Linked DNA regions of Homo sapiens. The protein of the gene in region 5 purifies or fractionates together with the protein of the main gene of each other region. This does not show direct contact. Each region holds a gene or a part of one and is shown on either strand. Other genes may lie near its edges.

Region 1 (3,500 bases), on a different chromosome or scaffold from region 5:
CAATAAGTATTTGTTAAATAGTCTCAAAGGTGGAGGAGGCCCCAGCAGTTGTAGTTAATGAAAATCAATATCTAGCTATGATGTTATGATGCTTTCAGTACTAATATAACTATTGTATTCTGTCTAAACTTTTTGAAGTGCTGTGGGCCAGGCGTGTTGGCTCACGCCTGTAATCCCAGCACTTTGGGAGGCTGAGGCGGGTGGATCACCTGAGGTCGGTGGATCACCTGAGGTCAGGAGTTTGAGACCAGCCTGGCCAACATGGTGAAACTCCGTCTCTACTAAAAATACAAAAATTAGCTGGGTGTGGTGGTGCGCGCCTATAATCTCAGCTACTCAGGAGGCTGAGGCAGGAGAATTGCTTCAAGCCAGGAGGCAGAGGCTGCAGTGAGCCAAGATCACGCCACTGTACTCCAGCCTGGGAGACAGAGGCAGACTCTGTTTCAAAAAATAAAATAAAGTGCTGCTAATTTTGGTGACTTACTGAACATATCTTTTATAATTTCAGCCAGCAGTATCTGTTGGAAATGTTGGCCAGCTTGCAATGGATCTGATTATTTCTACACTGAATATGTCTAAGATTGGTTACTTCTATACCGATTGTCTTGTGCCAATGGTTGGAAACAATCCATATGCGACCACAGAAGGAAATTCAACAGAACTTAGCATAAATGCTGAAGGTATGTAAGACTTTACCTTGTATTTTTCCACTACAAAGTAGAGTTGTTTTAAATTAGAAATAGACTTTATTGATAATTGTTTTGTAGCAAATGTTTACTTAGTGCCAACTTTGTGTAGAGTTCACAACCCAATCACATTGTCCTATTCTTTTATGTCCTGGTTTTAGTTGTTGTTAGCCTCTTGTAAATGGCAAGTCTTACGAAGGTTGAGAATAAGATCATACTTGTATCTTTTTTTTTTTTATTATTTTTGAGACGGAGTCTCGCTCTCTTGCCCAGGCTGGAGTGCAGTGACGCGATCTCCGCTCACTGCAAGCTCCGCCTCCCGGGTTCACGCCATTCTCCTACCTCAGCCTCCCGAGTAGCTGGGACTACAGGTGCCTGCCACCGCACCTGGCTAATTTTTTGTATTTTTTTAGTAGAGACGGGGGTTTCACTGTGTTAGCCAGGATGGTCTCAATATTCTGACTTCGTGATCCAACCGCCTCAGCCTTCCAAAGTGCTGGGATTACAGGTGTGAGCCACCGTGCCCAGCCCATACTTGTATCTTTTCTAGAATTTTTAAATTTCCTTGTTTTTCAACATGGATTTTTTTCCTTCTATCCTCAGTTTTATCTCCTGTTCTTACTGGTATGTGTAACCATCACTAATAATATGGAAAGGCGAAAAGTAGATTGCGCTGGACTCAGTCTTGTAGGTTTAATATATGTTACGTCAACTAAGTCTTATCCTCGTAGTCATCTTCTTCCATTATAGGATCCATAATAATATGGTATAGATAAGGCTCAAAGAGATTGACTTGCCTGATGCCACTAATAGGTGTAGGCTTTTCCCATACTGTAAATCTTTGTAATTCCTCATTGGACTATCAGGCTTGATTAATCAGGGAACACTGGTTATAATGCAGCACAGCACCAGGTGAGTAAGAGAAGAGCTCCTGTTGATCATGAAGCATGGGAGCACCCAGTTACTACCTTTGATGGCTAACTGTTCTGGTGATCTTTCAGTCTTCTGTTTACCATTTTAAGGTCAAATCCAGAGGTGACAGAAGAGCATGAAAGGCCTTTGGTGAATTGAAAGACAAATGAAGAAGCATTTTGGTTTTTGTGTCTTACTAACCATATCATTGTTTTTAGCTTGCGATAGTGAAATGTACATTTGAGAAATGACCTTATTATTGAACTTCCTACAGGACAGATGGCTTTGTCAACGCAAGACTAAATTTGAGTTACTGCCTCAGAGGATAAAGGACTATAAATGGTTAAAACCAGAATTCATGACCGGGTGCGTTGGTGCACATCTGTAATCCCAACACTTTGAGAGGCTGAGGTAGGAGGAACGCTTGAGCTCAGGAGTTTGAGACCAGCCTGGGCAACAAAATGAGACCCCATCTTTACAAAAAGAAAAAGAAAAAAATTAGCCAACCTGTAGTCCCAACCTCTTAGGAGGCTAACTAACTTGGGAGGACTGTTTGAGCCTGGGAGGTTGTGGCTACAGTGAACCATGATGATGCCACTGCACTCCAGCCCGGGTGACAAAGTGAGACCCTGTCTTAAAAAACAAAAGCCCCTAGAATTTGTATACTTTCCACTAGTGATAACAGCTATCTTTTATTGAGTATTACTATGAGCTAAATGCCATGTACTTTTTTTTTTTTAATGAGATGGAGTTTTGCTCTTGTTGCCCGGGCTGGAGTGCAGTGGCGCGATCTCAGCTCACCGCAGCCTCCGCCTTCCAGTTTCAGGCAGTTCTCCTGCCTCAGCCTCCCGAGTAGCTGGGATTACAGGCATGTGCCACCACACCCAGCTAGTTTTGTATTTTTAGTAGAGACGGAGTTTCTCCATGTTGGTCAGGCTGGTCTTGAACTCCCAAAATCAGGTGATCTGCCTGTCTTGGCCTCCTAAAGTGCTGGGATTACAGGCACAAGCCGCTGCGCCCAGCGGCGTTTACATGTAATTCATTTAATCTTTACAACGTTCTTTTTTTTTTTTTTTTTTTTTTGAGACAGAGTTTTGTTCTTGTTGCCCAGGCTGGAGTGCAATGGCACAATCTCGGCTCACTGCCACCTCTGCCTCCCGGGTTCAAGCGATTCTCCTGCCTCAGCCTCCCGAGTAGCTGGGATTACAGGTGCCCACCACCACACCCGACTACTTTTTGTTTTTGTGTTTTTAGTAAAGATGGGGTTTCGCCATGTTGGCCAGGCTGGTCTCAAACTCCTGATCTCAGATGATCCGCCTGCCTCGTCCTCCCAAAGTGCTGGGATTACAGGTGTGAGGAGCAACTGCGCCCGGCCCCCGTAAACTTTATTTTATTTTATTTTATTTATTTATTTTGGGTGTTTTTTGAGACAGTCTCGCCCTGTTGCCCAGGCTGGAGTGCAGTGGCACGATCTCGGCCCATTGCAACCTCTGCCTCCCGGGTTCAAGCGATTCTCCTGCCTCAGCCTCCTGAGTAGCTAGGATTACAGGCACATGCCACCACGCCCGGCTGATTTTTTGTATTTTTAGTAGAGACGGGGTTGCACCATGTTAGCCAGGATGGTCTCAATCTCCTGACCTCGTGATCTGCCTGCCTCAGCCTCCAAAGTGCTGGGATTACAGGCGTGAGCCACCGCGCCCGATTTGAGATGGAGTCTCACTCCGTCACACAGGCTGGAGTGTGGTGGCGGGATCTCGGCTCACTGCAACCTCTGCCTCCTGGGTTCAAGAGATGCTCCTGCCTCAGCCTCCCAAGAAGCTGGGATTGTAGGCACTCACCACACACCCAGCTAATTCTTGTATTTTTTTTTTTTTTTGACAGAGAGTTTTGCTCTTGTTGCCC
Region 2 (3,500 bases), about 100 Mb from region 5:
TTTCTGTTGCCTAGAATGTTCTAGGCATCGCTTATTCCTTCACCTCCTTCAAATATTTGTTCAAATGTCACCTCGTCTGATCATTTTGTTTAAAACTGAAACCTCTCCTATTCCACTTTCCTGCTTTTCTCCAGAAAACTATCATTACTTAATATGCTATTTACTTATTTATTTGGTTAGCCTTTCTCCACCAGAAGGTACACTCCACACAAGGGAGAAATTTTTTTAATCTTTTTTGCCCAATGCTATATCCTCATTCCCTAGAACAGTGCACGGTATATAGTAGGCACTCAAAAAAAAATTGCTAATGAAGGCCAGGCGTGGTGGCTCACGCCTATAATCCCAGCACTTTGGGAGGCCAAGGCAGGCGGATCACGAGGTCAGGAGATCAAGGCCATCCTGGCTAATACGGTGAAACCCCGTCTCTACTAAAAAAAATTCAAAAAATTAGCTGGGCATAGTGACGGACGCCTGTAGTCCCAGCTACTAGGGAGCCTGAGGCAGGAGAATGGCGTGAACCTGGGAGGTGGAGCTTGCAGTGAGCCGAGATTGCACCACTACACTCCAGCCTGGGCAAGAGAGAGACTCTGTCGCAAAAAAAAAAAAAAAAAAAAATTGCTGAATGAATGAATGCAAAGTAAGCACACTTCTCAAGTATATGGGACCACAGATAACTTGTTTCTAGGAGTGTTTATTTATCAAACAGGTTTTTGGCATCTATCCATTAGGTAGACACTGGCAGGCACTGGTATTATAATGATGAACGAGACAAAATGGTCTCCTGGAGCTCAGAAGCTTATAGGTCTACAGGTGGACAGAACAACTCCTAGGAAAGGGAGCTACTAAGATATTCTTACACATCTTTCTGTTTGAATTAAAATTATACACCAACACAAAAGTTTCCAGTGAGTACCTCAATCTTTTCCTCTTTGAAATTAAGTTTTTAAAATTAAGATTTTTAGCCAAAATATGCCACACATCTTTGTCAGCAAGTTATACTTTAATGACACATGAATTTTCAAAAGTAAATTTGGCTAAAAGTTACATTGCCTTGTCTCTATAAAAAAAATTAAATAATTGGCCGGGCATGGTGGCACACATCTCTAGTCCCAGCTACTCAGGAAGCCGAAATGAGAGGATTACTTGAGCCCAGTAGGTTGAGGCTGTAGTGAGCCATGATTGTGCCACTGCACTCCAGTTGGGCGACAGAGTGAGACCCTGTCTCAAAAAAGAAAAAAAAAAAAAAAAAGTTGCATTGTACCCAGTGATTCCAAACTTGGCCTGATCTCTGCTCCATAATGATCTTCTTGAACTTCTTGCAAACAAAGTACCTTGGAAGAAAAAAATAGCTTGAATTAGAACACAGAGATGCAATCATGAATTTCCTGGTGCTTTTATCTTAAAATATCTAAAAGCAGGCTTCTAAAATTCCACACCTGATAAGAATTGAAATAAAAGACTTACCTGTTTTTCTTGTTATAGATCTACCAAATTAATGTTTCCGAATTTTGATCAATCTCAAAACTCTGGCCCTCAATCACATGGAGCTCCCTTAGTACTCAAAATTATTATTTCCAAAAGGAAATATTCTTAGCTTACATGTCAGGATATTTTTCCGGGTTTTACATGTTCATTGGTACTATCTTTCAGGTCTTAAGAGGCAGATTTCTTTGAATGCTATCAGGTAGGTGACATTTTTGCATGAATTACTGAAATTTCAAATCAAAGTTAATATTTACTGAATACTTAATATGTTGCCAGTTTCTGTCTCAAAACTGACCCATACTTAAAAACTTTTTGGACCCTCTTTGAAAAGTTAGATGATTATTCATACCAGCAACCACTAACAAATGCCTCTCTGAAAGTTATACCTTATTAAGACTTATTCCATCATTATTCTTAAACATATTCCTTTCTTACCCCACAAACAAAATGGATAAAACCATTTAGTTCATAAATGCACAAATGAAACATTTAACCCAACTTTTTCTTTCTTTCTTTTTTTTTTTTTTTGAGGCAGAGTTTTGCTCTTGTTGCCCAGGCTGGATTGCAATGGTGCAATCTCAGCTCACTGCAACATCGACCTCCCAGGTTCAAGTGATTCTCCTGCCTCAGCCTCCTGAGTAGCTGGGATTACAGGCATGAGCCACCACGCCCGGCTAATTTTGTATGTTTTAGTAGAGACGGGGTTTCTCCATGTTGGTCAGGCTGGTCTCAAACTACCGACCTCAGGTGATCCACCTGCCTCAGCCTCCCAAAGTGCTGGGATTACAAGCATGAGCCAGTGTGCCCGGCCCCAACTTTTTCTTATGTGAAGAATTTCAATAATATTTTGCACTTACGTCTGCATCAAAATGTTTAATTTCTTTCAGAATATTGGGAAACCTAAAACTCCAGTGTAATACTGGCCGCCGGCAATGTCTATAAAGGTGAGAGTTATCTTCCAGTAAATCTTGTGAAAGTATATTATAGGACATCACTGAAAAGTCAAACTTGTTCTCACTGTCTTCACATTTGGGATCAACATTTTTGTCTCCTAGGATCTTCGTTTTTTCTTTATCATGGCTACATATATATTCCCAATTCCGCTTTATCACACCTGTTAAAATATATTGCACAAATATAAGGAATTAATCAAAAGCAGACCATACAGTTTCCCACATATATGTATTTTTCAGCCTCTTAAAAATTCCCATAAGCAATGAATAGAATGTTTTTCCCTAGGAAGTGGCAATATAGCACTGAATAATTAGAACTGTTATCAAATTGGTTACAAATGCGGTAACACAATATACTGACCAACAGGTTTAAAACAGGTTTAAAAGAATCTTGCAAGTCATTCTGGAGGCTGAGAGTATGTGTTAACAAAGCTAAGACTATACAGAGGTTGTGGTTTCTCACTTCTCTACAGTTAAGAAGTGGCTCTGCCACAGATGTGATTGGCAGTTTTATAACTATAACAACAAATTTGTATGTCAAAGTTGGCTTTTCAATAAGATGATTTTACACTGTATTTTATTCCCTATTAGTGGGATAAGATCGTCAAATGATTAACCAAGTTCCAGAAGCAACCCTTAGTTCAGAATTCTAGTTTATACATGAAAGAAGTGTATATAATGGCAATATATGGAAGAAGTTTTAGTGTTTAAAACACTGAAGTGGAACATGCAAACAAAATAACAAAAGAAATCTTTTAAATGTACAACAAAGGAAAAGTTAAATATGACATAGCTACAGAATGCTAGTAAATGATGGCTAACCAACAAACCTAGCATGCAACAACCAGGCGTGTGTTCATATTCTGCAAACACATCATGCATTCTGCAAAAGTGATGAAAAGAATAAAAAAACACAAGACTTTGCAATCATAGGCAGTCCCTGACTTAGAAATAACCGTGTGTGTGATGTGTGTGTGTGTATTCACCTTTGATCTTGTCTCCTACATCCTATCATTAAAGAGCATGCTCTTACTGCCATGGAAACCATGAAGAGAAACACGG
Region 3 (3,500 bases), on a different chromosome or scaffold from region 5:
TTGCGAGACCCCTAGCACACAGTTGGCCTTCTCCCCTGTAAGATTCAATATGAATGTACACGTTTTACATCTGATTTCCGGAGGGCACGGACCCCTCAAAAATCCATTTGTGGACCTGTGAGGACACCACTGACCTTCAGCTCAGCCTCTGACCACAGCCGGGCGGGGGCCTGCAACAAGGCTGCTCTGTGTCGACAGCGCCACCTGGTGGCCACTATGAACCATCGGCCTGACTCCACTTTAAGAAAAACTATTCATTTACCGCCGGGTGTGGTGGCTAATGCCTGTAATCCCAGCACTTTGGGAGGCCAAGACCAGCAGATCACGAAGTCAGGAGTTCGAGACCAGCCTGACCAACATGGTGAAACCCCGTATCATCTAAAAATACAAAAATTAGCCGGGCCTGGTGGCATGCACCTGTAATCCCAGCTACTCAGGAGGCGGAGGTTGCAGGAGCTGAGATCATGCCATTGCACTCCAGCCTGGGCAACAGAGTGAGACTCTGTCTCAAAAAAAAAAAAAAAAAAAAAAAAAAAGAAAAACTATTCATTTACTTATGTTCTTTTGTAGAGATGGGGTCTTCTGTGTTGCCCAGGCTGGCCTCAAGCAAACCTCTCTCCTTAGCCTCCCAAAGTGTTGGGATTACAGGCGTGGGCCACTGCCCCTGGCACTGACTCCACTTTTTTAATTAAATTTTTTAATTCTTTTTTTTTTCTTCCTCTGAGACGAAGTCTTGCTCCATTGCACAGGCTGGAGTGCGGTGGCGCGATCTCGGCTCACTGCAACCTTCGCCTCCCGGGTTCAAGCAATTCTCCTGCCTCAGCCTCCTAAGCAGCTGGGATTATAGGCACACACCAGCACACCTCGCTAATTCTTGTATTTTTAGGGAAGATGGGGTTTCACCATGTTGATCAGGCTGGTCTTGAACTCCTGACCTTGTGACCCACCCACATCAGCCTCCCAAACTGCTGGGATTACAGGTGTGACCTACTGTGCCCGGCAACTTTTTAATTCATTTTATTTAAAAAAATATGTATATATAGGGTGGGCGCGGTGGTTCATGCCTGTAATCCCAGCACTTTGGGAGGCCGAGGCAGGCGGATCACCTGAGGTCAAGAGTCCAAGACCAGCCTGGCCAACATGGTGAAACCTCATCTCTACTAAAAATACAAAAAAAAATTAGCTGGGTGTGGTGACACACGCCTGTAGTCCCAGCTACTTGGGGAGGCTGAGGCAGGAGAATCGCTCGAACCCAGGAGGCACAGGTTGCAGTGAGTCAAGATCGTGCCACTGCACTCCAGCCTGGGTGACAGAGGGAAGACTCCCTCTCAAAAGAAAAAAAAAACAACTATATATATATATATCTATGTAGATATAGATATAAAAGTATATATGTATTTATAGATACATATAAATCTATATCTAATCTATATATATCTATGTATAGCTACAGCTATATCTATCGATATATCTATATATAGATATATAGAGAGAGAGAAGGACGGGATCTCACTCTTTCACCCAGGCTGGAGTGCAATGGTGTGATCTTGACTCACTGCAACCTCCACCTCCTGGGCTCAAGTGATCCTCCCTACTCAGCCTCCCGAGTAGCTGGGACTATGGGCGCCTGCCACCACGCCCTGCTGATTTTTATATTTTTAGGAGAGATGGGGTCTCACTATGTTGCCCAGACTGGTCTTGAACTCCTGGGCTCAAGTGATCCTCCCGTGTTAACCTCCCGAAGTGCTGGAACTATAGCCATGAGCCACTGCACCCAGCCTAGATTCAATTTTTTGGATACCTCATTTACCCTGATGTGATTATTAGGCATTGGATGCCAGTATAAAACATCTCATAAAACCCATAAATATATATACCTACTATGTACCCACAAAAATTACAAATTACAAATTAAAAAAAATAAAAAATACATTCATTAAATTTTTTTTCAAGAGACAGGGTCTCGGTCTGTGGCCCAGGCTGGAGTGCAGTGGCGTCATCACAGCTTGCTGCAGCCTGAAAGTCTCTAACCCCTGGGCTTATACATTCTTTGCTCCTCAGCCTCCGAAAATGCTGGGATTGGCTGGGTGCGGTGGCTCACGCCTGTAATCCCAGCACTTTGGGACGCCGAGGCAGGAAGATTGCGTGAGCCCAGAGTTCAAGACCGGTCTGAGCAACAAAGCAATTTAAAATTTAAAGAGCAACAAAAAATTTAAAAATTAACCAGGTGTGCTGGTGCATGTCTGTGCAAGACTCCGTCTCATTAAAACAAAAAACTAGGAATGTGAACCATCCAACGTCACACTGAATATGTATCTGTGGACGACCCCCTCTGGGCTGAGCGTGGTACCGGGTGAACGATGGTATCCTCTCCATCAGTCTTGACTGTTTGTCCTGCAAAGCCCCTGGCCGTGCCCTGCTCGCCCGCACACCTAGGTTCAAGCAGGTGGGACCAGGCGCAACTCAGGGTCCTGAGTTCACGGCGGCGGGAGAGGCGAGGTCCAGGCAGGGCGTGGCCTCAGGGGTCCTACCTGTGTACATGATGCCGTTGATCTCCACCGACATGCTGATGCTGTTGCTGCCGTTGGTGCCCGTCAGGTTCACAGCAGAGTCCTGGCGGCTTTCGGAGGCTGTGGGAAGAAGAACAAATTAGTTTCTTTTTTTCTTTTTTTTTTTGAGACAGAGTCTTGCTCTGTTGCCCAGGCTGGAGTGCAGTGGCGCGATCTCAGCTCACTGCAAGCTCTGCCTCCTGGGTTCACGCCATTCTCCTGCCTCAGCCTCCCAGTAGCTGGGACTACAGGCGCCCGCCACCACGCCTGGCTAATTTTTTGTATTTTTAGTAGAGATGGGGTTTCACCATGTTGGCCAGGATGGTCTCGATCTCTTGACCTCGTGATCCACCCGCCTCGGCCTCCCAAAGTGCTGGGATTATAGGCATGAGCCACTGTGCCCAGCCGAACAAATGAGTTTCTTTCTTTTTTTTTTTTTTTGAGACGGAGTCTCACTCTGTCACCCAGGCTGGAGTGCAGTGGTGCGATCTCGGCTCACTGCAACCTCCACCTCCAGGGTTCAAGCAATTCTCCTGCCTCAGCCTCCTGAGTAGCTGGGACTATGGGTACACACCAGCACACCCGGCTAATTTTTGTATTTTTAGTAGAGACGGGGTTTCACCATGTTGGCCAGGCTGGTCTTGAAGTCCTGGCCTCAGGTGATCTGCCCGCCTCGGCCTCCCAAAGTGCTGGGATTACAGGCGTGGGCCACCGCGCCCGACCAAAACTGCCATTTCTGATCATAAAGACACCTGTGACATGTTCTGTTTTCTGTCTGTCTCGCCAACTAGATTTTAGCTTTACAAGGTGTAGACGGTGTCTGTCACATTCATGCTGTCACCAGTGCACACAGTAGGTGCTCAATATTTATTTGTTGAATAAGTGTATTTGTCCATACTCCACTTTGTTTTTTTTTACCTTGTTTTTGAGACCAGGTCTTGCTCTGTCACC
Region 4 (3,500 bases), on a different chromosome or scaffold from region 5:
TGGTGTGAGGGAGAGGTGGTACTTGAAACTGTGTAAGTTGGTACTTGATGAAACTTGAGTTAAGCAGAGGCAAGATCACAAAGGTGCATGTAAACAGTGGAAATGAGTTTGTACTTGAACCTGAAAAGAGTTGGGGGCTATTGAATTTTAAGCAAGTGGGTACCACAGTCAGACTTCATGATAAATCACTCTGGATGCTGTGTGGGGAATCATTTTTTAAAAATCAAGATTAGAGGCAGGTCGATCAGTTAAGAGAGTGTTGGGGAGACTTAGGTGAAAATAATAGTCCCCTAAACCAAAGATACTAACATTGAATATGAAAAAAGAGCAAAGAGGTGTGAGAGATGTTTAGAGGGTGGAATCAGTAGGCTTAGTGAGTGCTTGGAAATGAGTCAAGAGGGAAGAATCATTGATGATACCCAGGTTTCTGCCTTCAGCAGCTGGGCAAGTAGTGACGATAGGGGTGTATACTGCTGGTATGCGGGGAAGAAGATGGGTCTAATGGGGGGCATGTTGAGTTTGAGGAACTTGTGGGAAATGTTCAGTGGGCTGAGCCTGGGGCTCATGAGAGCACTCCAGCTTACTTTAAATCTACATATGGAATCATCAGCATGGGGCTTGGAGGTTTTTAATCTGGGGCCCTTGGGTGGCTTCAGGAGGTTCATGAAATGTTATATGTCTGTACATTTGTCTGGAAGATCCATAGCTTTTATGATTGCAGAGAGGTCTGTGACCTAAAAATTAAAACTATCTGTTACACTGATCAGTCACAGAAGACGATGTGATTGTATAGGAAGTGTAGGCTGAGAGGAAAAGACAGTCTGGGACAGTGCCCTGAGGAGCACCAGCAGAGAAGACATAGAGAGAAGACCTGGAAAACAAAAAAGACCACCTCTTTCATCGTACAAGTAAGGAAGCTGGTCGACTGTGCAAGTTTTTACTCAGTAGTAAAGGCAGAGTGAGGGCCCAAATCCCAGTATTTAAGCCACTCTTATTTCCACCATGCCACTCTGCTGCCTGAAGATGAAATACATCTCTCCAAAATGGGTGGTTTGAGAACTGTGCAACACCAGATTTGAAGTCCCTGCGTCTTTATTTTAAATCATGGGTTGGGAGAGTTACTAGGTATTTTCTTGTTTTCCTTTTCTTGCTTCACACTGCATCTCGATGTGTACTCTTTCCTTGACTAGCGCCTGATTGAGGAAGAGAACATGCTGGCACCATCTCTGAAGCAGTTTTCCCTACGAGTGGAGATTTTGCCATCCTACATTCCAGTGAGGGTTGCTGAAAAAATCCTATTTGTTGGAGAATCTGTCCAGATGTTTGAGAATCAAAATGTGAACCTGACTAGAAAAGGTAGAAATCTCCTTGTCCAATGTACCACACCCTCAAAATCTCTTCTTCCTTAATACTATGTGGCCCCACAGCATGCCTGGTCAGAGCGAGTGGTCGATAATATTCCTATCCTGAGATTGTAGCAGAATCATGACGTTTGTCTGAGAAGCAGGTGAAGTTGCTGCCCCACTGAGATTAGCCCTCCCCAGAAAACCCTAACTGTCCTGGGTATTCTCCGTCCTCCTTTGACGGTGTCTTCCTATTTTGCAGGATCCATTTTGAAAAACCAGGAAGACACTTTTGCTGCAGAGCTGCACCGTCTCAAGCAGCAGCCACTCTTCAGCTTGGTGGACTTTGAACAGGTGGTGGATCGCATTCGCAGCACTGTGGCTGAGGTTTGTGTTTCATCGTATATATATATATATATATATATATATATATATTTTTTTTTTTTTTTTTTTTTTTCTTAGGCAAAATTGGACTAGTTTCCTAGAAATTGAGTTACTTGGTCGGGCGCAGTGGCTCACGCATGCAGTCTCAACACTTTGGGAGGCCAAGGCAAGTGGATCATCTGAGGTCAGGAGTTCAAGACCAGCCCGGCCAACATGGTGAAACCCCGTCTCTACTGAAAATACAAAAATTAGTCGGGTGTGGTGGCATGCACCTGTAGTCCCAGCTACTTACGAGGCTGAGGCAGGAGAATCGCTTGAACCCGGGAGGCGGAGGTTGCAGTCAGCCGAGATCACACCATTGCACTCCAACCTGGGCAACAGAGCAAGACTCTGTCTCCAAAAAAAAAAAAAAAAAAAAAAAAGACACTGAGTTACTTGACTTTTGTTTTTATCTTGATGTCTTGATGAGTTAAGAACCGAGCTTGGAAAGAAATGTTGCAGAGAGTTGAAGGCAGAAAGTAGAAAAGAAAAGCCTCTGTTTTCATTAACAGAGGCAGAACTGCCTTCCCATTTTCCTATCTAACTAAAAGACAGGTGGTTTTTAGTTGGTTAGTTAGTTGAATAAAGGGGGGATCTTGGTTTAAATTCTGAAAATCAGCATTTTGGATCTGTCTCTATCGTTTGCAATAACTCCTAGGAATCAACTAATTCTGACTAAATTTTGTGTCTTGTAGTTTAGTATGGCTCATAACTTATACTTTCATTTCTATACACAATCATCTTATGAGGAAAGCAGAACAAATATTATTTTCTCATTCTTATAAATGAAGCAAACACTCAGCAAGCTGACTTGTCTGGCTTGCCTGGTGTGGCACAGTGAGTAGCCATAGTGAGGTCAGTGCCAGGCCTCCGACTCCTGGTGCACAGTCTTCTTCATTTTGAATTGTGCTGGTGCCACCGACTTAAATTGTGACCAGTAATTTTTCAAAGGAGCATATATGTTCTGTGGCTTATATTAACATTTGTCTCATGGATATGTGATAACACGAAATGAGACATTTAGTCAGCTGTGTTGTTAACTATATTCCTGGCTTTCAACATTGGCTAAGCATAGAATCGCATGAGAAAATTTTATTTTTTATTTTTTATCTTTTTATGGAGTCTTGCTGTGTCACCCAGGTTGGAGTGCAATGGTGTGATCTCGGCTCACTGCAACCTCTGCCTCCTGGGTTCAAGCGATTCTCCCGCCTCAGCCTCCCAAGTAGCTGGGATTACAGGCACACATCACCATGCCCAGCTAATTTTTGTATTTTTAGTAGAGATGGGGTTTCACCATGTTGGCCAGGCTGGTCTCAAACTCGTGAGCTCAAGTGATCCTCCCACCTCAGCCTCCCAAAGTCCTGGGATTATAGATGTGAGCCACTGCGCCTGGCCCGCATGAGGAAATTTTAAAACCTGCACTTGCACCAAGTCCTTACTTCCAGAGCTTCTGATTCATAGGTCAGGAGAGGGTAGGTACCTTTATTTTATTTTATTTTTGAGACAGGGTCTTGCTTTGTCACCCAGGCTGAAGTGCAGTGGAGCAGTCGCGGCTCACTACAAACTCCGCCTCCCGGGTTGAAGCAATTCACGTGCCTCAGCCTCCTGAGTAGCTGGGACTGCAGGCCTGCACCAGCATGCCTGGCAAACTTTTTTGTATTTTAATAGAGATGGGGGTTTCACCATGTTGGCCAGGCTGGTCTTGAACGTTTGGGCTCAAGTGATCCTCCTGCC
Region 5 (3,500 bases):
CCCTGTTCCTTGTAGAGCCTGCAGGGGGTGCATTCAAGGGAGGGGTTTAGAGCCGGCAGAAGGGCAGGCTGCAGCTCCGCATCCCCTGTGCCCCTCTGCCCTCCTCACTGTAGGTCCGAGTCACTGTCCGTCTTCAGGAAATCTTGCTTGGCCCGAAGCAGGATGTCTGGCTCCAGCCTAGAGGCAAGAGGGGTGAGAAGTCAGGCAGATCCCGAGGGACGGCCCTTGCTCCCAGGTCCCAGCACCGCACTAGGTGCTGTGCACATGTTGTCACATGTGATCCTCAAAGGCAGAGCTGCAGAACCCTGTGCTGTTCTCACTCACTTTAGAGATGAGAAAGCAGACCCATAAGTTAAGCAACATGACCCAGCCACACCGGCGGCTAGAAGACAGAACAGAACCCAGCAGCCCGACTCCAAAGCCCACTCTATGCTCCCTGTGCAGACCCCCCAAGGCAGGGTGCGAGGGAAAGAGGCAGAAAAGGGGCTCTGAAAGGGTCTGGAAGGGTATGGAGGGAGACTAAGCAGCTGCCTGCCGGGCTCACTTGACATCCTGGCTGATCTGCCGCTCCAGCCGCTGCCGCCGCTCCTCCAGCTGTTCAATGGGGCTCTCCTCGGGGAACTCATACGGGGCACTACGGAGCTCGCTCTCAGCCAGTGAGCGGGTGAACAGCTCCTGGGGGGAGGGAAGGAAGGTCAGCATGGCTGGCCCTCCGCCCTCGGGCACTCTCCTACAGAGTCTGGGGATGGGGTGAGGGCAGCAGGACCAGGGGTACCTGGGAGAGGCTGAGGATCAGGAGACAGCCAAGCGTGAGGTGAGGGGACAGCTTGAGGTGAGGGGTGTGGGGAGCAGAGGCAGGGCATGGAGACACGGGGTGAGGGTGCGGGTGGTGCCAGGTGATACCTCGGCGATCTCCTTGCATTTGCCATCCATAGACGTGCGCAGGTCGAGCGGGAAGTGCTTGAGGCAGGGGGCGGGGCCCGGCAGGGATCGGGCAGACTGCAGCGGAGGGGCCCCCAGACCACCCCGAGCCTCTGCAGAGACAGTGATGCCAGGGTCAAAGGGTGGAGGGGCAGCCCCTGAAAGCCCTGGGCCCCTGCCCTGCCTAGGCCAGCTCCCGAGAGAGCCCAGGGTCGGGAAAGAGGGCAGTCCCTCCTCAGTAGCTGAGGAGTAGGCCTGTGTGTGTGGCTCCCAAAGGGCTCACCCTCACCTCTAACGCAGGGACCCCTCACCCATTCCAGGCTTGGGGTGGGGATTCTGAGTCTGCCCCTAGAACAAGTAGATTCATTACCTCCACAAATGAGACTAGAGCCTGATCCCTCAGGCCATGAGAATCTCCACGTGACTACCTCCCAGAGGCAGGTGCACGTGTGTACGTGTGCACACACATGCACGTACGCACACAGACACCCTCAGAGACACACACCAGGTGCTTGGTAAGGACCAGGCGGCCACACCAGGGACCCCCAGCCTGCAGCTCCCAGGGCAGGCAACCCAGGATCAGACCCGCCCCTGGACTAGCAGATTCTCCACTCAAAGGGGCAGGGCCCTGTGCCTGACATCCTAGACCTGTGCAGCACAAGAGAAGCCGCAGCTGCTGCTCAGCTCTGACCTAGGGACGAGCCCTCAAGGGAAGAGGAGAGGAAGTGGAGGGCCTGGTTGGCAAGGGAACCCTACCTCCTCCCTGGAGGCCCGCCCTGTCCCCCAGGGCCCCAGGGCTGCCAAAATGTGGCCTGGCCTTAGCCTGCCCCTCCAAAAGGAGCTGCCACAAACAGTCTATGCCACTCAGGCCCCAGGATCTGGACCGGGGGCACCACAGAGGGCCCTGGGGAAGGGAGTGTCAGAAGCCAGGGGTCTTTCTTCATCAAGACTAGACTTTCCATCTGTACCACGAGGAGGCTGGCACCAGAGGGCCGTGAAGCTGCTGGTCTATGGGGGCTGCCAAGGCTTCCAGCCTACCCCGAAGGACCCTCCCTGGGCTCAGCAGCCCCAGCTCCTCAGTGAGAAGCTTTCCACACCCAAACTGCCTCTCTCAGCCGGCTGTAAGGAGTGCTCCCCTCCAGCACCCTCCACCCTGGCTTAGGGAAGGATTACAGGATCTGCCTAGGTAGCCGGCCTTAAAGTCTCTGCGCCCATTTCCCAATACTCCAGGACTGGTCCCAAAGCTGGACAAAGGGAAGAGGGAGGGGCCTGCCCCAGATCCAGGACCCCGTCCCCTGCGCACCCCGGCCCCTGCCTGAACCCTACCTGCAGAGTGCAGGCAGCTCCGGCCAGCAGCCCTGTGCCCCTTGCCCGCCTGTTTGCCAGTGAAGCTGCAGCCGGTCCCTCAGGGGCTGGCACAGGCTGTACCAAGTGCAGCTGCAAGCAGGGGAGACCCTGAGATGGCCGTGAGCACGGAGCTAGGGGAGTTCAAGGGAGCCCAGAAACCAAGGGAAGGAGCATCAGAGTTGGGAGATAAGACGAACTCCAGAACTGAAGAGGGCCTCCACCTCTACAGTGCCAGGGAAGACCCAGCCAGATGTGAGGCTCCTAAGGGGGAGTAGCAGGGTAGGCTGACTTGGGCAGGGCAGGCCGACAGGGAGGAGCCAAGCCTCCTTAAAATCCACTGCCCTAGGGGACAGTGAGTGGGCAGGGCCTGGCTGGCCAAAGAGTAAGAGGGGAGAAAAAGGAGGGGAACAGCGCTCTTCATCACACCCACAGCCCCAGGTTGGCCTCTTCTGGCAGTGGCCTTGTTGCTCACCACTGTCCTCTGGGCCCTGATTATGGCATCCCTCAGGAGAGACAGGGCCTTTGCTGGGGTAGGAGCTGGCTGGCAGCTGGGGAAATGGCCCAGTCTAGGTAGGGGCCAGTCACTGAGGCTTCCCCGCTGCCCAGCTGCTCAGGGGGCTGGTTCGCAGGCCCCTAGACCTGCAACCCCTGATCCAAGCCTATCATCAGGGACAGGACAAACTGTCCAGAATAAGTTTGGGAGAAAGGGGGCTAGAATTTGGAGAACATGGATCTGATTCTGTTCCTGCTTCCGGGCATGTCTCTACCTACCTCTGGGAGGCTTTGGGTCCTCATCTACAAGTGGGGCGATAAGTGGTCCCTTCCCTGCCTAGCCACAACTGCCATAAGGCTCACAGAGATAATGGCTCTGCAAGTGTTCTGCAAAACACCAGGCTCTGTGTTGAGGCAAGGCCTGCAATTATGAACTCCTGGGACCCTCAAAATACATTCTACCTGTAGCCCCGCCCACTGAGGACAGTGGGAGGTTCCCTGGGCCCAGTGCAGGGCAAAGGCAATAGGCCAGTAAAGGGCAGTGAAGTGAACTTGGCAGGAGTGGAGATGGGGTGACTCTATCTCTTACTTGGAAAAGGACAAAGTGGGAAGAGGAAGAAAAGAGGGGAAGCTGTCTCACCCCCAGAGTGTAAGATCTTTTCTTGCCCGAGAACCCTGATTTTACACACCTCCTCCCTACATATGGCCCCAGACCACTTCTGACTCCTTCTAGGGGAGGC
Region 6 (3,500 bases), about 69 Mb from region 5:
GAAATGTCTTTTCTTGTGCTCCAGTTACTATATCTAGAATCTAAAGCTTGACAGTAGCAATTCACGTATTGTACTGTGATTGCATGACTATTTCCCCTTTAGACTGTAAGCTTAAGAGGAAGGTATTCCTTTTTATTTTTGTGTACCTAGTGCCAAGTAAAGTCTCTCAGCACAGAGTATACATTTCATAAATGGGTGTTAAACAAATAAAACAGACTAAATTACACAACGTATCCAAGGATACAAAGCTACTAAATGACAGAACCAGGATTCAAATCCAAGTCTCTCCATTGCCAAAGCCTACAATTACTGTCTTAATAAAGCTAAAAATTAGATGTTTATCTTCTCTTTATCTTGCTTGTGGGAATTCTTTGATCATAAACACATAAGAAATTATATATATATATACACACACATATATATATATACACACAAGTTCCTGTTTTAAAGATAGCTTATAATCATATGAATTTTCTTATAAGAGCTTCCAATTTTAATATCCACATTCTATAAAAGCTTGCAAGGTAGTTAGCATGTAATAATAGTGGTGATCTCTCCTAAATACCAGAACTATAAAGGAGCCATGGTTTTCATCTGATAGTCTCCCTGAATTCAACACTCACTGCCTAGAAATTGATGTTATTTTGAGTTGTCACAGGAACTGTGTATAAAAACTAAGGTAGAATCTCTTAGGAAAAAATAACTCACTTTAACTTTAGCTTTTATTTCTTCACTGTTCCCTTCTTCCTCATTGCGGGGTTCCATGCCAGAATCCTCCTGGATGTCTTTGTTTAGTACAGAGTACTCTTCTAGTAGAGTGTCAAACAAAACTATTCGCTTGTTCTTGAAGAAGCCATAAAAATAAGCATTGCTGTGGGAAGAGCGTTTAGATCCTAAGGAAAAGACAGTTCAAAGCATGGAATATAATTAAAAAGTTTGGGGTCCTTTGGAGAGACTCCTAGAAATTGAATTACTGGAAAGGACATTAACATTTTCAAATCATTTAATATGTGAAGAAAAATCATATCAACATAATTCACCACCAGCAGTGGAGAGTGTCTGTTTTTTGCCAATAAATGTGCTCATCACAGCTTTATAGCAGTAAGTAAATAAGTAAAGCCTAAACATCCAACAGTTACAAATGATTCAATTATAGTAAAACTATGAAATGGAATTTTAAGCTGCCAGAAAAAAATTATACTTCCAAAGAATTTTAACAAGAAAAAGCTCACCAATATATTGTGAAGGATACAAAACTTCACGTATATCAGGTTCCATTATCGTCAAGAAAAAATGTGCATGTATTAGGTTGGTGCAAAAGTAATTGCGGTTTTTGCATTGTTGAAATTTGCTGTTTGATATTGGAATACATTCTTAAATAAATATGGTTATGTTATACATCATTTTAATGCACATTTCTCACTTTATGTTTTTTGCTAATGACATTACTTGCTGTTTATTTTATATTTATTTTAGATAAGGGAAATTATATTAGACAAAAAGCAAATTCAACTGGGTGCAGTGGCTCATGCCTGTAATCCCAGCACTTTGGGAGGCTGAGGCAGGCGGATCACTTGAAGTCAGGAGTTCGTGACCAGCCTGGCCAACATGGTGAAACCCTGTCTCTACCAAAAATACAAAAAATTAGCCGGGCATGGTGGCGCACACCTGTCATCCCAGCTACACGTGGGGCTGAGGCATGAGAACTGCTTGAACCCAGGAGACGGAGGTTGCAGTGAGCAGAGATGTCGCCACTGCACTCCAGCCTAGGCAACAGACGGAGACTCTGTCTCACAAAGAAAGAAAAAAAAAAAAGCAAATTCAAGCAATTTTCTTCTTTGAGTTCAAAATGGGTCGTAAAGCAGCAGAGACAACTCGCAACATCAACAACGCATTTGGCCCAGGAACTGCTAACGAACGTACAGCGCAGTGGTGGTTCAAGAAGTTTGCAAAGGAGATGAGAGCCTTGAAGATGAGGAGCGTAGTGGCAGGCCATCGGAAGTTGACAATGACCAATGGAGAGCAATCATCGGAGCTGATCCCCTTACAACTACACAAGAAGTTGCCGAAGAACTCAATGTCGACCATTCTACGGTCGTTTGGCATTTGAAGCAAACTGGAAAGGTGAAAAAGCCTGATAAGTGGGTGCTTCATGAGCTAAGCGAAAATAAAAATTAAAAAAAATCATTGTTTTGAAGTGTCGTCTTCTCTTATTTTACACAACAAACCATTTCTCTATCAGACTGTGACGTGAGACGAAACATGGATTTTATAGAACAACGGGCGATGACCAGCTCAGTGGGTGGACACAGAAGAAGCTCCAAAGCACTTCCCAAAGCCAAACTTGCACCAAAAAAAGGTCATGGTCACTGTTTGGTGGTCTGCTGCCAGTCTGATCCACTATAGCTTTCTGAATCCTGGCAAAACCATTACATCTGAGAAGTATGCACAGCAAATCGATGAGATGCACAGAAAATTGCAACGCCTGCAACCAGCACTGGGCAACAGAAAGGGCCCAATTCTTCTCCAAGACAACACCCAACCGAACATCGCAAAATCAATCCTTCAAAAGTTGAACAAATTGGGCTATGAAGTTTTGCCTGATCTGCCACATTCACCTGACCTCTTGCCAACTGACTACCACTTATTCAAGCATCTCAACAACTTTTTAAAGAGAAAACGTTTTCACAACTAGCTGGATGCAGAAAATGCTTTCCAAGAGTTTGCCAAATCCCGAAGCACAGAGTTTTACCCTACAGAAATAAGCAAACGTATTTCTTGTTGGCAAAAATGTGTTGATTGTAATGGTTCTTCTTTTGATTAATAAAGATGTGTTTGAGCCTAGTTATAAGGATTCAAAATTCATGGTCTGAAACTGCAATTACTTTTGCACCAACCTAACAAATATTAACAGAAAAGCATAAGCCCATGCCTATTAGGAAACATACCAAAATACTGAAATGTTTATCACTAAATTCTAAAATTATAGATTTTTGTTTCCTTTCTTTTCCCAAAGACTTTTAAAATCAGCATACCTACTTCTATAATTAAAGCAATTTTTATAAAGACTGGAAGAAGACATACCTTTTTTTCTTTTGAGACAGGGTCTCTCTGTCGTCTAGGCTGCAATGCAATGGCATAATCATGGCTCACTGCAGCCTTGACCTCCTGAGCTCAATCAATCCTCCTGACTCATCCTCCTGAGTAGCTAGGACTACAGACACATACCACCATGCCCGGCTAATTTTTTGTAGAGACAGGGTCTTGCTATGTTGCCCAGGCTGGTCTCTAACTCCTGGGCTCAAGCAATTCTCCTGCCTTGGCATCCCAAAGTGCTGGGATTACAGGTGTGAATCACCACAGCTGGCCCATACCTAAATTTTTAATAGCAGCTAACAGTACCTGAACTATGGTTGATTTTTATTTTCTTCTTTATGCACTTCTTTGATTTCTAAATGTCCTACAATGTGCAGTGAGTTGAGTATAGTGATTAAGAGCAC
Region 7 (3,500 bases), on a different chromosome or scaffold from region 5:
GCCGCCCCACAGGGGAGAGCCGACCTCTGATGGCCTGCTGGAGCCGAGCCACGCCAAGGTGGTATGTCCAGAGAGGACTGGTGAGGTGGCCTCTGAGAGTGACATATGGGACCGGTGCAGGAACACGGTCCTCTAAGCGCAGCCACGGAGCAGCACTTTGCCCTGCAGGGCCCAGAAGGCAGGCCTGATGGAAACTCACGCGTGGGAGACCCTGTCTCCACTAGGCAAGTGACCTGAGAGGGCAAGCAGTGTGCCCCCACCATGTTACCTGCCTCCCCAACAGGGCAGGTGCCTGTGGAGGGGCTCACTTGTCCTACACCCTCCACCTGTCCCATCACTGAGTGACATGTGACTGCCTGGGCTAGGGCATCCTCCCAGGTACCCCCCAGTGAGACAGGGCAGAGCAGGACAGGCTGGTCCCTGAGCCCACTGACACCTCGGGGCTGGAAAGGCCTTGGCCTCTCAACTAGGGGATGCTGACCTCCCTCAGGGGTATGATGAGGTGGCAAGCGTCCTCCTCCTTGCTGGCGAAGCAGATGTAGTTGTTGGAGATGAACATCTGGCCAGGGATGTGCAGCTTGTTGAACGGCGTCCACAGGGTGCAGCTTGTGTGGCCGTCTAGCCGCTCATCCCTGGGCAGCCGGAACGTGGCTCGGTAGCACTCATTCTTGGCTCGGGCGTCCAGGTCTCTGGGGAAACAAGGTAGGAGGACAGGAGGAAAGGGGACAAGGTCAGGACCAGCACACTCTCAAGGAAGCCTTGGGGCCTCCCCAGGCCTGTTTCCACATCAGATTCAGGATCCCTGGGGTGGTCCCTTGAGCAAGTCATGCTCAGGGACCTCAGAGTTCAATAAAAGATGCATGCTGAGTGAGCAGGCAGAAGGTGAGACAGTCACATAACCAGCGGAGAAGTGGCCAGCAAGCAATGTGTCCTGAGACTGCTTTGAAAAGGACACACCTAGATGCTGGCCTGGGCAATGTGCAACCCATCCCTCGGTACTGATGGGCAAGCAGAGCCCAGAGCACCTGCCCTGGATCCCACTCAGATGGAGGGCCCCGGGCAGCTCTTCCACCCTGGGCAGGCCTAACCCCAGGTTTCACCTTGAAACCTAGGTGAGGAGCTCCCCACAGGGAGGTGTGGAGCTTAAACTAAAGCATGCGGCTGCTAACAGAAATGCACACCTGTGTATCTGATGGCTGTGACAGTGGCCTGGCCCAGGCCCTCACCCCTTTGGTGGCTCTGTCCACATAAACTCTCCCAGCCCCAAAGGGAGCCTCCTGCCTGCCCTGGGCCGCAGTGGCCTGACCAGGGCCTGACTGCATTCTCACCGGCAGTGCCAGGAGCAGTCATGTTCCATCTCTGCTCGTGTTCTTTCCAAAAGGTCCAACAAGCCAACCTGTCACTTGCATCCCAAGGACAACATGCTTGCACAATTTTCTGGTCCTGGAGGTGGACCCCAGAGTTTGGGCCTGGACCACAGTCTGTGGGTGCAATGCAGGAAATGGCCTGGCTGGAATGAGGTCGCTCAACACAAGGGTGTGAATCTGGCTGTGGTCAGGCTGGCTGTGGGACCCAGGGAACCTCAGAGATCTTGTCCAGCCTCTGGAGTTTCCCATAAGCTACAACCTAGGAACCCAAACGTTAAGTAGCCCGGGAGGGCTGGCTGCTATGATGTGTTCCTGCCTATCGGTCCCCTGGACAGGGCAGCAGGGAACTCAGACCCACACATGGCCCATCTCCTTGGCTGGCTTCAGACCCAGAGGTCTGCTTCCACGTCAAACTCAGGACCCCTGGGGGTCCCATGGCTGTGAGAGGCCTCTGGCCAAGGAGTCTCAGGGTATACAGGAGAGCTGTCAATCACGGTGGGACGGAGGCCGTGCACTTGAGCCCAGATTTACCAAAGCCTTTCTGGGGGTGTCAGAACACCCTGGCTGAGGTGGCTACATCCTGGCTCCACTGCTCACTAACCGAGGGACTTCAGGCAAGTTACTTAACCTCTCTGTGCCTCAGCTTCCTTGTCTGATACCTAGGGATGGTAAGAGCCCCTTCCCATCATAGGGCCAAGAGGAATAAAGTGTGAAGAGCTTCCTCCCCATTAGTGGTATCCTCAGGACATCACTGCTATCTCCTGCTGCCTCTCCACACGGGACTGCAATGATCTGTTTACCTGGCTTCCTTCCCAAGTGGGGAGCCCATGAGGGGTGAATGTGGACACCTTCTCCAGGTCTACACACTTGGACCAGGCAGGTCCCAGCCAAGGTCAGCGAACCTGGCTCACATGAGCCCACCCCAGCCCTGGAGGGCAACGCACCGCTTCAGGGCTGAGATGTTCCTGTGTGGCCGGATGGGCCTAGGCAGGGCCTTGTCCTCCAGGAAGCCCTCGCTGTCCAGCAGCTGCCGCATGGCCAGGTTGGCCAACTGCTCCATGAGCTTGAAGGTCTCGCCGATGTTGAGGAACATGGAGAAGAAGAGCTCCTGGTCGCGGGTGTCCACACGGATGCTCTCGGGGAAGAGCAGGGTGGCGTTCTTCTCCAGACGCGTTATGTCCACCCACTGCACCACGAGGCTCACTGTGCCCACAGAGATAGACACACCGCAAGTTAGGGCCTGGCAGGGCGAGGCTCCTGATGCCCATCTGTACCCCAGACCCATCCCAGGGAACTGCTCTCTGGGGGCAGCACTTCCTGTGTGCCCAGGCCTGTCTGGGCTGTGTCACGCCCTCCATGTGGAGGGACCAGGCCACTGAGGTGTCCACTGCCTTCCAGACCAACCACACACGGTGAGTGTCTCCCCCACCAGTGGCTGAAGGGGAAAGGAACGAACGTGCGGAGGTGAACCACCGAGACCCACCCAGCAGCTCCCCCAAGTGGGAGCGCACGGAGGTGTGAACAGTCACAGCACAGCGCGGCCAACACAGAACAGGACACAGCCCCTGCTGACGGGAGGTGACTGGCCACCTGGTCGTGACAGGTAAGCGGCAAGGGCAGGAGGGGGCACAGGGAGGCTGTGGGCTGAGGGAGGCAAGGAGGGAGGAGGGCTTGGTGGGCTTGGGGATGGCTAAGACCCTGGGGCTCTTTCTGGAGCTGCTGGGAAATCAGGCTCGCATCCTGTGGCCGGGATGTCTGTAGGGAGGAACCTGCAGCAGATGAGGGCTGTGGCACGCACCCAAGGCATTGCATGACATGGAATCACCAGGAATTTGGGACAGACGTGTGCCTGAATACGCCAGTTCAGCAGAAGAGGGCAGGGCAGGCACGCGGAGTCACCATGTAGAGAACCCTACTAGCGAGTGGGGGGCATGGTAAAAGTCGGCTGGGAGCAGGTGTACGCCTGGCCAAGGCCGGACAGTCCCATCTTGGGCCGCTAAGGTGGCATTTGGGTTTCAGGGAGACCCCTCTGGTGGCCATGTGGGGATGGAGTATCTGGGGGCCGAAGGCAGGGAGGGGCTGAGGGTGTGGGGGCTGGGGCACACTGAGGGGCGGGCTCACCTTCCTTCCCCA

The links.
Region 1: the proteins of AMPD2 (region 5) and PSMG2 purify together in Homo sapiens (affinity purification with mass spectrometry; one large-scale study listed by BioGRID and IntAct). This does not show direct contact.
Region 2: the proteins of AMPD2 (region 5) and ANGEL2 purify together in Homo sapiens (affinity purification with mass spectrometry; one large-scale study listed by BioGRID and IntAct). This does not show direct contact.
Region 3: the proteins of AMPD2 (region 5) and ARID3A fractionate together in Homo sapiens (co-fractionation; one large-scale study listed by BioGRID). This does not show direct contact.
Region 4: the proteins of AMPD2 (region 5) and TUBGCP4 purify together in Homo sapiens (affinity purification with mass spectrometry, with the first as the bait; one large-scale study listed by BioGRID). This does not show direct contact.
Region 6: the proteins of AMPD2 (region 5) and ZMPSTE24 purify together in Homo sapiens (affinity purification with mass spectrometry; one large-scale study listed by BioGRID and IntAct). This does not show direct contact.
Region 7: the proteins of AMPD2 (region 5) and TBC1D9B fractionate together in Homo sapiens (co-fractionation; one large-scale study listed by BioGRID). This does not show direct contact.

Annotation. Positions count from the first base shown.
Region 1 is NC_000018.10:12,706,042-12,709,541, forward strand, and holds part of PSMG2 (proteasome assembly chaperone 2), read left to right. Parts: intron 1-508; coding exon 509-680; intron 681-3,500. UniProt on the Homo sapiens protein: Chaperone protein which promotes assembly of the 20S proteasome as part of a heterodimer with PSMG1.
Region 2 is NC_000001.11:213,005,868-213,009,367, forward strand, and holds part of ANGEL2 (protein angel homolog 2), read right to left. Parts: intron 2,600-3,500; coding exon 2,343-2,599; intron 1,332-2,342; coding exon 1,262-1,331; intron 1-1,261.
Region 3 is NC_000019.10:967,535-971,034, reverse strand, and holds part of ARID3A (AT-rich interactive domain-containing protein 3A), read right to left. Parts: intron 2,631-3,500; coding exon 2,532-2,630; intron 1-2,531. UniProt on the Homo sapiens protein: Transcription factor which may be involved in the control of cell cycle progression by the RB1/E2F1 pathway and in B-cell differentiation.
Region 4 is NC_000015.10:43,384,601-43,388,100, forward strand, and holds part of TUBGCP4 (gamma-tubulin complex component 4), read left to right. Parts: intron 1-1,190; coding exon 1,191-1,356; intron 1,357-1,605; coding exon 1,606-1,730; intron 1,731-3,500. UniProt on the Homo sapiens protein: Component of the gamma-tubulin ring complex (gTuRC) which mediates microtubule nucleation.
Region 5 is NC_000001.11:109,622,837-109,626,336, reverse strand, and holds part of AMPD2 (AMP deaminase 2), read right to left. Parts: intron 2,309-3,500; exon of another isoform or gene 2,248-2,308; intron 1,035-2,247; coding exon 904-1,034; intron 676-903; coding exon 545-675; intron 178-544; coding exon 109-177; intron 19-108; coding exon 1-18. UniProt on the Homo sapiens protein: AMP deaminase plays a critical role in energy metabolism. Catalyzes the deamination of AMP to IMP and plays an important role in the purine nucleotide cycle.
Region 6 is NC_000001.11:40,278,736-40,282,235, reverse strand, and holds part of ZMPSTE24 (CAAX prenyl protease 1 homolog), read right to left. Parts: intron 2,117-3,500; coding exon of another isoform or gene 1,938-2,116; exon of another isoform or gene 986-1,937; intron 894-985; coding exon 709-893; intron 1-708. UniProt on the Homo sapiens protein: Transmembrane metalloprotease whose catalytic activity is critical for processing lamin A/LMNA on the inner nuclear membrane and clearing clogged translocons on the endoplasmic reticulum.
Region 7 is NC_000005.10:179,890,898-179,894,397, forward strand, and holds part of TBC1D9B (TBC1 domain family member 9B), read right to left. Parts: coding exon 3,489-3,500; intron 2,571-3,488; coding exon 2,312-2,570; intron 690-2,311; coding exon 482-689; intron 1-481. UniProt on the Homo sapiens protein: May act as a GTPase-activating protein for Rab family protein(s).